Linked DNA regions of Homo sapiens: region 1 is linked to region 2. The links come from fine-mapping of genetic effects on gene expression. A gene starts in region 2. The other region holds a variant in brackets. All regions are shown on one strand. Distances are between the middles of the regions. Region 1 has its middle 180 kb from the start of MIR138-1. Region 2 holds the start of ZNF660 (zinc finger protein 660).

What was found. PIP is the estimated chance that this variant, and not a neighbour inherited with it, causes the effect.
Region 1: its variant is fine-mapped to the expression of ZNF660 in ovary (GTEx, PIP 0.99).

What each region holds. Positions count from the first base shown.
Region 1 is chr3:43,935,303-43,940,509 of GRCh38, forward strand. No RefSeq gene overlaps it. Among named protein-coding and RNA genes, the nearest start is that of MIR138-1, 180 kb to the right of the region's middle. The variant T/A (reference allele first, on the strand shown) is at 2,969.
Region 2 is chr3:44,581,940-44,587,146 of GRCh38, forward strand. It overlaps ZNF660 (zinc finger protein 660), which reads left to right and starts at 3,025. Exons shown (of 3, transcript NM_173658.4): 1 at 3,025-3,068; 2 at 4,166-4,274. It overlaps ZNF660-ZNF197 (ZNF660-ZNF197 readthrough), which reads left to right and starts at 3,025. Exons shown (of 8, transcript NR_147692.2): 1 at 3,025-3,068; 2 at 4,166-4,274. The region is part of intron 2 of ZKSCAN7-AS1 (ZKSCAN7 ZNF cluster antisense RNA 1); the gene reads right to left. It also overlaps a transcript of ZKSCAN7 not described here.

The DNA.
Region 1 (5,207 bases), 650 kb before region 2:
ATTTGTTTAAGTTCTTTGTAGATTCTGGATATTAGTCCTTGGTCAGATGGATAGATTGCAAAAAATTTACTCCCATTCTGTAGGTTGCCTGTTCACACTGATGATAGTTTCTTTTGCTGTGCAGAAGCTCTTTAGTTTAATTAGATCCCATATGTCAATTTTGGCTTTTGTTGCAATTGCTTTTGGTGTTTTAGCCATGAAGTCTTTGCCCAAGCCTATGTCCTGAATAGTACTGCCTAAGTTTTCTTCTAGGGTTGTTATGGTTTTAGGTCTTACATTTAACTCTTTAATCCATCTTGAGTTAATTTTTGTATAAGGTGTAAGGAGAGGGTCCAGTTTCAGTTTTCTGCATATGGCTAGCCAGTTTTCCCAACACCATTTATGAAATAGGGAATCCTTTCCCCATTTCTTGTTTTTGTCAAGTTTGTCAAAGATCAGATGCTTGTAGATGTGTGGCGTTATTTCTGAGGCCTCTGTTCTGTTCCATTGGTCTTATATCTGTTTTGGTACCAGTACCATGCTATTTTGGTTACTGTAGCCTTGTCGTATAGTTTGAAGTCAGGTAGCATGATGCCTCCAGCTTTGTTCTTTTTGCTTAGGATTGTCTTGGCTATATAGGCTCTTTCTTGGTTCCATATGAAATTTATAGTTTTTTCTAATTCTGTGAAGAAAGTCAGTGGTAGCTTGATGGGGATGGCATTGAATCTATAAATTACTTTGAGCATTATGGCCATTTTCACAATATTGATTCTTCCTATCCATGAGCATGGAGTGTTTTTCCATTTGTTTGTGTCCTCTCTTATTTCCTTGGGCAGTGGTTTGTAGTTCTCCTTGAGGAGGTCCTTCACATCGCTTGTAAGTTGTATTCGTAGGTATTTTATTCTCTTTGTAGCAATTGTGAGTGGGAGTTCACTAATGATTTGGCTCTCTGTATGTCTATTACTGGTGTATAGGAAGGCTTGTGAATTTTGCACATTGATTTTGTATCCTGAGACTTTGCTGAAGTTGCTTATCAGCTTGTGGAGATTTGGGGCTGAGACAATGGGATTTTCTAAATATACAATCATGTCATCTGCAAACAGAGACAATTTGACTTCCTCTCTTCCTATTTGAATACGCTTTATTTCTTTCTCTTGCCTGATTGCCCTGGCTAGAACTTCCAATACTATGTTGAATAGGAGTGGTGAGAGAGGGCATCCTTGTCTTGTGCCAGTTTTCAAAGGGAATGCTTCCAGCTTTTGGCCATTCAGTATGATATTGACTTTGGGTTTGTCATAAATAACTCTTATTATTTTGAGATATGTTCCATCAATACCTAGTTTATTGAGAGTTTTCAGCATGAAGCGGTATTGAATTTTGTCAAAGGTCTTTTCTGCATCTATTGAGATAATCATGTGGTTTTTGTCATTGGTTCTGTTTATGTGATGGATTAAATTTATTGATTTGCATATGTTGAACCAGCCCTGCATCCCAGGGATGAAGCCGACTTAATCGTGGTGGATAAGCTTTTTGATGTGCTGCTGGATTTGGTTTGCCAGTATTTTATTGAAGATTTTTGCATCGATGTTCATCAGGGATATTGGCCTGAAATTTTATTTTTTTCTTGTGTCTCTGCCAGGTTTTGGTATCAGGATGATGCTGGCCTCATAAAATGAGTTAGGGAGGATTCCCTCTTTTTCTGTTGTTTTGAATAGTTTCAGAAGGAAAGGTACCAGCTCCTCTTTGTACCTCTGGTAGAATTTGGCTGTGAATTAGTCTGGTCCTGGGCTTTTTTTGATTATTGGGGTATAAATTACTGCCTCAATTTCAGAACTTGTTACTGTTCTATTCAGGGATTCTTCTTCCTGGTTTAGTCTTGGTGGGCAGGACGGGGGGGTGTATATGTTCAGGAATTTATCCATTTATTCTAGATTTTCTAGTTTATTTGCATAAAGGTGTTTATAGTATTATTTGATGGTAGTTTGTACTTTTTTCGGATCAGTGGTGATATCCCTTTTATCATTTTTTATTGTGTCTATTTGATTCTGCTCTCTTTTCTTCTTTATTAATCTGGCTAGCAGTCTACCTAATCTTTTCAAAAAATCAGCTCCTGGATACCTTGATTTTTTAAAGGGCTTTTCATGTCTCTATCTCCTTCAGTTCTGCTCTGATCTTAGTTATTTCTTGTCTTCTGCTAGCTTTTGAATTTGCTTGCTTTCGCTTCTCTAGCTCTTTTAATTGTGATGTTAGGGTGTCAATTTCAGATCTTTCCCACTTTCTCCTGTGGGCATTTAGTACTATAAATTTCCCTCTAAACACTGCTTTAGCTGTGTCCCAGAGATTCTGGTATGTTGTGTCTTTATTCTCATTGGTTTCAAAGAACTTATTTATTTATGCCATGATTTCATTATTTACCCAGTAGTCATTCAGGAGCAGGTTGTTCAGTTTCCATGTAGTTGTGCTGTTTTGAGTGAGTTTCTTAATCCTGAGTTCTAATTTGATTGCACTGTGGTCTGAGAGACGGTTTTTTATTATTTCCATTCTTTTCCATTTGCTGAGGAGTGTTTTACTTCCAATTACATGGGCAATTTTAGAATAAGTGCGACGTGGTGCTGAGAAGAATGTGTATTCCGTTGATCTGGGGTGGAGAGTTCTGTAGATGTCTATTAGGTCTGCTTGGTCCAGAGCTGAGTTCAAGTCCTTGATATCCTTGTTAATTTTCTGTCTTGTTCATCTAACATTGACAGTGGGGTGTTAAAGTCTCCCACTATTATTGTGTGGGAGTCTAAGTCTCCTTGTAGGTCTCTAAGAACTTGCTTTATGAATCTGGGTGCTCCTGTATTGGGTGCATATATATTTAAGATGGTTAGTTCTTCTTGTTGCATTGATCCCTTTACCATTATGTAATGTCCTTCTTTGTCTTTTTTGATTTTTGTTGATTTAAAGTCTGTTTTATCAGAAACTAAGATTGCAATCCCTGCTTTTTTAT[T/A]TTTTCTTTCCATTTGCAAGGTAAATATTCCTCCATCCCTTTATTTTGAGTCTATGTGTGTCTTTGCATATGAGACGGGTATCCTGAATACAGCACACCAATGGGTCTTGATGCTTTATCCAATTTGCCAGTCTGTGTCTTTTAATTGGGACATTTAGCCCGTTTACATTTAAGGTTAATATTATTATGTGTGAATTTGGTCCTGTCATTATGATGCTAGCTGGTTATTTTGCCTATTAGTTGATGCAGTTTCTTCATAATGTCGATGGTCTTCACAATTTGGTATGTTTTTGCAGTGGCTGGTACTGGTTGTTCCTTTCCATGTTTAGTGCTTCCTTCAGGAGCTCCTGTAAGGCAGGCCTGGTTGTGACAAAATCTCTCAGCATTTGCTTGTCTATAAAGGATTTTATTTCTCCTTTGCTTATGAAGCTTAGTTTGGCTGGATATGAAATTCTGGGTTGAAAATTGTTTTCTTTAAGAAAGTTGAATATTGGCCCCCATCCTCTTCTGGCTTATAGGGTTTCTGCAGACAGATCCACTGTTAGTCTGATGGGCTTCCCTTTGTGGGTAACTCAACCTTTTTCTCTGGCTGCCCTTAACATTTTTCTGTCATTTCAACCTTGGTGAATATGACAATTATGTTTCTTGGGGCTGCTCTTCTCGAGGAGTATCTTTGTGGTGTTCTCTGTATTTCCTGAATTTGAATGTTGGCCTGTCTTGCTAGGTTGGGGAATTTCTCCTGGATAATACCCTGAAGAGTGTTTTCCAACTTGGTTCCATTCTCCCTGCCACTTTCAGGTACAACAGTCAAACATAGGTTGGTCTTTTCACATAGTCCTATATTTCTTGGAGGCTTTGTTCATTTCTTTTCATTCTTTTTTCTCTAATCTTGTCTTCATGCTTTATTTCATTAAGTTGATCTTCAATCTCTGGTATTCTTTCTTCTGCTTGATCAATTTGGCTATTGATACTTGTATATGGTTCACAAAGTTCTCATGCTGTCTTTTTCAGCTCCATCAGGTCATTTATGTTCTTCTCTAAACTGGTCATTCTAGTTAGCAATTTCTCTAACCTTTTTTCAAGGTTTTTAGCTTCCTTGCATTGGGTTAGAACATGCCCCTTTAGCTCGGAGGAGTTTGTTATTAACACACCTTCTGAAGCCTACTTCTGTCAATTCATCAAACTCATTCTCTGTCCAGTTTTGTTCCTTTGCTGGTGAGAAGTTGTGATCCTTTGGAGGAAAAGAAGCGTTCTTGTTTGTGGAATTTTCAGCCTTTTTGCACTGGTTTTTCCTCATCTTCGTGGATTTACCTACCTTTGGTCTTTGACATTGGTGTCCTTTGGATGGGGTTTTTGTGTGGATATCCTTTTTGTTGATGTTGATGTTATTCCTTTCAGTTTGTTAGTTTTCCTTCTAACAGTCAGGACCCTCTGCTGCAGGTCTGCTGGAGTTTGCTGGAGGTCCACTCCAGACCCTGTTTGCCTGGGTATCACCAGTGGAGGCTGCAGAACAGCAAAAATTGCTGCCTATTCCTTCCTCTGAATGCTTCATCCCAGAGGGGCACCCACCAGATGCCAGCTGGAGCTCTCCTCCATGAGGTGTCTGTTGACCCCTGCTGGGAGGTATCTCTCAGTCAGGAGGCACGGGGGTCAGAGACCCACTTGAGGAGGCAGTTTGTCCCTTAGCAGAGCTCGAGCGTTGTGCTGGGAGATCCACTGTTCTCTTCAGAGCTGGCAGGTGGGAATTTTTTTTTTTTTATACTTTAAGTTTTAGGGTACATGTGCACAATGTGCAGGTTAGTTACATATGTATACATGTGCCATGCTGGTGTGCTGCACCCATTAACTCTTCATTTAGCATTAGGTATATCTCCTGATGCTATCCCTCCCCCCTCCCCCCAACCCACAACAGTCCCCAGAGTGTGATGTTCCCTTTCCTGTGTCCATGTGTTCTCATTGTTCAATTCCCACCTATGAGTGAGAACATGCAGTGTTTGGTTTTTTGTCCTTGCGATAGTTTACTGAGAATGATGATTTCCAGTTTCATCCATGTCCCTACAAAGGACATGAACTCATCATTTTTTATGGCTGCATAGTATTCCATGGTGTATATGTGCCACATTTTCTTAATCCAGTCTATCATTGATGGACATTTGGGTTGGTTCCAAGTCTTTGCTATTGTGAATAGTGCCACAATAAACATACGTGTGCATGTATCTTTATAGCAGCATGATTTATA
Region 2 (5,207 bases):
CAGAGCGTGCATTCCTGAAAACCTCTAGGGGTTAGGGACAGGTTGTGAATTTGTCAATTGTGAATACGCACATGGTGGCACTATAAAAAGAATTGAAAGTAAATCCCCTATCCCTAACATCAGGTCATGCTCTGCCCTGATGGGGACCAGTAGAATTTGCCACAGCTGGATACAGGGAAGGTGTTAACGATTACAGCTGGCTCCACAAGCACCTAGTGGTGCTAGTACTTGATCCAGGATAGGACATTTTAGATTTATTATTCACCAAATCATAACAGTCCTCCACTAATATATGCACAGGGTCACTTTACCCAGGTGGATGCCAAGTAGGGTGAGATGCAGACTCCCTTTTAAGGCATGTGAGTGCTTTACATGAAAACACAATAGGAGAGCAATGTATGACGGCCCACCTTTCTGGCCTGTGGGTATTCCTGAAATGATGCCTGGTTAAGACTTGTCAACTGACTAAAATTACAATGTTTTTTCCCCTTAGATGGCCTAGTCCACAAACTTAAAAAGACCTGACCAACTAGACGTTGATTTCATTTACCCAAATGAGTTAGAATTTCTTTGGCAGATAGATGTCATAATAAAGATTGAAATTGCTGAGTATTTAGGCAATTATGACACACAAAAAAACACCCTGATTTCTGAGCAGTGACATTATACTTGACTGAATGAATAGATTTTTGTAGGAAAAAGTATGCTTGTGGATAAGGGCAATAGAAGCTGGATACAGGCAGGCTGGAATCTATTTTTAACATATATTCTAGTGACCCTTACGTTCTCTAAAATTTGAGAATTACTGGACTAGAATATTAAGGAGTAATCATTCCTCCCTGGGACCAGATGTAGGGTTAGCAGCTTGAATCAGAATGAATGGCCCCACCCACCCAAATGAAAGAGTAGGTGAAAGGGAAGACTAAGTAAGTTAAAGATCACAGCTCCCTTAATGTACATGAATATTCGTGTGTGTGTGTGTGTGTGTGTGTGTGTGTGTGTGTGTGACTGAGTTTCACTCTTGTCTTCCAGGCTGGAGTACAATGGCGTGATCTTGGCTCACTTCAATCTCCAGCTCCCGAGTTCAAGCGATTCTCCTGCCTCAGACTCCTGAGTAGCTGGGATTACAGGCGCCTGCCACCATGCCCAGCTAATTTTTGTAATATTTAGTAGAGACGGGGTTTCACCATGTTGGCCAGGCTGGTTTCGAACTCCTGACCTCAGGTGATCCACCCGCCTCAGCCTCCCAAAGTGGTGGGATTACAGGCGTGAGCCACCACACCCAGCCTATTCTTTTTAAGTTTCTTGATGTAGTGGCAGTAGTCTTGTGCTCTTCAGGAGAGTGTCCCGAGTTCTACGTCCCACATCAACTGAGGGTGTGAACTTGTGGAGGACTTTTGTCTGAATCTCTTTTTCAATCTCTATACAATGTGGCGGAGTTGTGCCACCTACATGAGCCAATGGAGAAGAAAGCTCCTGGTATACTTTAAGTACTCAACAATATTAAATACTGAATATTTGTCAATTGACGAAGTACTTCAAAAGCTTGATTCTCAGACTCCTTCTTAGATAAATCATTCCCTAGATTGTCTCATCCTGTCCTGACAACTTCCAAATTTATGTCTTTAGCTGTGATCTCTTCACGGAAGTCCAGACTCCTATTCCAACTGCCTGTTTGGCATTTCATCTTGGATGTTTAATTGGCATCTTTAACACATCCAAAACAAAACTATTAATCCCTCTCCCTAAACCTGTTCCTTTCAAGCTACTCGATTTCTAAAAGACCATCCCATGCTAGTTGCTCAGATCAATAACCATGGAGTCATCAGTAACCAACATTCAATTCATTAGCAAATCATGCAGGCCATGCCTTCAAAATATATGCAGAACCATTTCTCACTACCTGCATCACTTCTAAGCCTGTCCAAGCCACTATCAGTCCTCATCTGGAATATTGTAATGGCCTCTTAATCTCCCTGATTCTACTCTTACCCACCTTCAGACCGTTCTCAACAAGACAGCCAAAGCAAACTAAAAATATAAGTCAAAGAGCAAAATTCATGCAAGGTTTATGTTAGAATGGCTAAGGACAGACAGCAAAGAATTCACAGAATTTATAGTAACAGGCTTCTTGGCTTCTTTCATGTCTCATAGCTAACAAGTCTTTGAATATGTGGTAAGGGAAAAAAAGTTAGATCATGTCGTTCCTCTGTCCCCAAGCCCTCCAGCTGTTATGCAGAGCAAATCCAAAGCCCTTATCATAGTCTACAAGATCCTAAATGTGCACCTCTCCACCCCACTCCTGATTAAAGAATTTTGCTCCTAATGGCCCACTATGGGAATACTCTTTCCCCAGATAGCCACATGCTTCAATTGCCCACTTCCTGTCTCTGCCCTCCCTGTCATCTGTAAAATAGTCCCACCACTATCTCCCTCTCTCCCCTTACTCCCTCTCTCCCCTTACTGCTACGTTCTACATATTTATTTATCATTGTCTCCTTGACTTGAATGTAAACTCAATGGGGCAGAGAGTTCATTTTCTTCACTACTGTATCCGCAGCGCCTGGAACAGTGAGTGACATAGTAGGCACCCAAAACGTCTTTTCATATGCTGCCAATAAACCATAGCTGATCCTGGCTTTGAGGCTGAATGACCCAGATCTGTGGAAGGAAAGATGACCTCTCTGCTCAGCAACCGGAGCTGGGGGTGTAACTTTAGGGAGTCTCAGCCTGAGGCTGGCAGCCTGGCCACCCAGATGCTCGGTCTCTTTCCGCCCTAACCAAGCCCCCTGCCCAGCTTCCACCACTTCCAGGGCCCTCCTCACATTGGCTGAAGTCGCCAAGCCCTTCCATCCAATGATAGGGCAAAGCCCGGAAGGGAGGCAGGGCCAGAGCGTCGGCCGACCGCGCGGGGCTTCTGAGGGGCGGGGGGACTCCAGCCCGCGGGCACAGAGATGTGGAAACCTCACGAAGCCTAGAAGGGCCGGAGGGACAGGCTGGGAGTTAGCTGGGAGTTGCTGACGCAGTTCCTTCTGCGCTTTGTTCAAGATGTGGGTCTGGCGCTTTCGGTGAGGGGTGCTCTACAGTCTGGCGTGGGGGGTCGGGCCGGGTTCTGGGAGCGTGTGGGAGACGCAAGCCAGGAGGCCAGGGCTCCTCTGCGGCTGCCCGCTGCTGAGATGGGCGCGGCAGCCAAGGGGTCGTTGTGGGCCTCCCCTTTCTCTCGTTCAGTGCTGCCCCTTTGTCTTGGGTCCAGTCTCTGACTCCTCGTAGCTGCTCGCTTGGACCAGGCTGGCCGTGGTGACAGCACTGTGTCGTCCCCGCTCCTAGGCAGTGGGCCTTCCGGGTAGTAGCGGTCGAGTCCCGCCTAGGCTCTCAGGACTCCACAGCCCCTGAGTATTTGACTCAAATCACCAGTCCAATATCCCTCCCGTTACCAGTGAGGAACCTGGGGCCCAGAGAAGAGGACGGAGTCTTGCCCAAGGTTACTCATTCATTCATTGATTCATTCAACAAATATTTATTGAGCACTAACCCAGTAGTGTGCTAGGTCCTGGGGTTATGGTTGTGTACAGGACAGAACTAAATTCTAGTAGGGGAGAAATGAAACAAACTTCAAGGGTTAGAAGCAGAGCCTGGGGATCTGGAGGGGGAAACACAAAACATATTTGAGGCTTAGTAATCCTAAGAAATGGGTAAACAGAAAAAAGGAACATTCTTTTTCTAGTGCTCTTTTAAAGACTTGTTTCTTTCTGTCTTCCTAAAGACACTTGACTCAGCAAAGTTCTCCCTCTCATCCCCCTTGTGCAGACTTTCTGTGGAAAGCTGGATTGCAAGGAAGTTCTCCACTGCATTGTATTTTGCAGTTAGATGAGAATATGGAAGCTTTTAGATATCAATGGAGCAGGTGAAAAGGGGAGGCTGTGGTGTGATGGAATTAGGATTTCCTGAAGACACAGAAGGCTTTTTAATCACTCACTAGCTATAGGACCTTGGGCAAGTCGTTCAATCCCTGGGAGCTTCATTCCCTCATCTTTACACTGGAAATGATCCTTCTTACTGCCCACAGTTCTATAGGAAGGGAAGTTACCCAAAGATGGGACACTGCCCTGAGTGTCCACTTGGAATTCAGGGCTCAGAGAACTCAGTCATTTATATCTGTTTACAGTGACTCAAGACCCTCTTAGGAACTTCTTCACTGAACTCAAGGAGGAGATCAGGCAAGATCTGTGCTGTGCAGATCCTTTGGATTGAGGCTGCTGTGCACAGGAATATGGGTGAGTCATTCCATTCTCTCCTGGGCAGGTGAGGCCTAGATTGTGAAGTTAGTCTGGGCACAGGAATCCTGCTTGTGGGCACCAGGGTTGAAAGGGAGCTTCTCTCAGTGGTATTTATCAAACAGGAGAAAAGCACTGAAGTGGGCAGGGGGCCTCTGGACCTTGAGGAGTAGAGTTTTGTTTCAGATGGGAATAAGGGTGATGTAGTAGAACTCAAAATTGGGTGTCATGGGACTTGGATTTGAGTCCCAGCTTTCCTCTAAGTTCCAAGTTTTCCTTCTGTACATTTGGATATAAGACTGGATAGACTGGGAGGTTCCTTCCAGCTCTGACATACTGAGAGTCTCTGAATAGTGGGACCAGGTCAATCTCTTAGGGAATTTAGTCCCTGGGATGACTCTGTTGAGACAGAATTGCCAAGAATGCAAATACACCATTATGGTGTTTCCCAGATAATATGAAGCACAAAAAGGACAAACATGTAGAGGAGGGATGGTAGTAGTGATGTGTGGATTTGGCTCTCAGCATCCCTATGTGCACTCCAGGTGTTAGAATCTTAAACTTGTTTAATTTACCATTTCAAATCAAACAATGCTGACTGAGCCCTCTCTGTGTCAGACACCATGTGGTATCTACAGGCAAATCTCATGGGAACTGCTCTCTGAGGGCATAGAGCTTAATGTATATATTTGAGGATGGACACAGACATACACACAAGCAATTCCAGTATAAGGCAAACTCTATTTTATAGATTTGTTATGGCATTTTTTGGAATACAGAAATTTTTATGTGTCAGATATATCAGCTTTTTCACATGGTGTTAGCCTTTCCCTTGAGGCTTAGGCCTTTCTTCTAATTCTTTTTTTTTCTTGCAATGTTTACATTTCACTTATCCATCCCTTGAATTTATTTTCAGGTATTTCCTCTTATTCC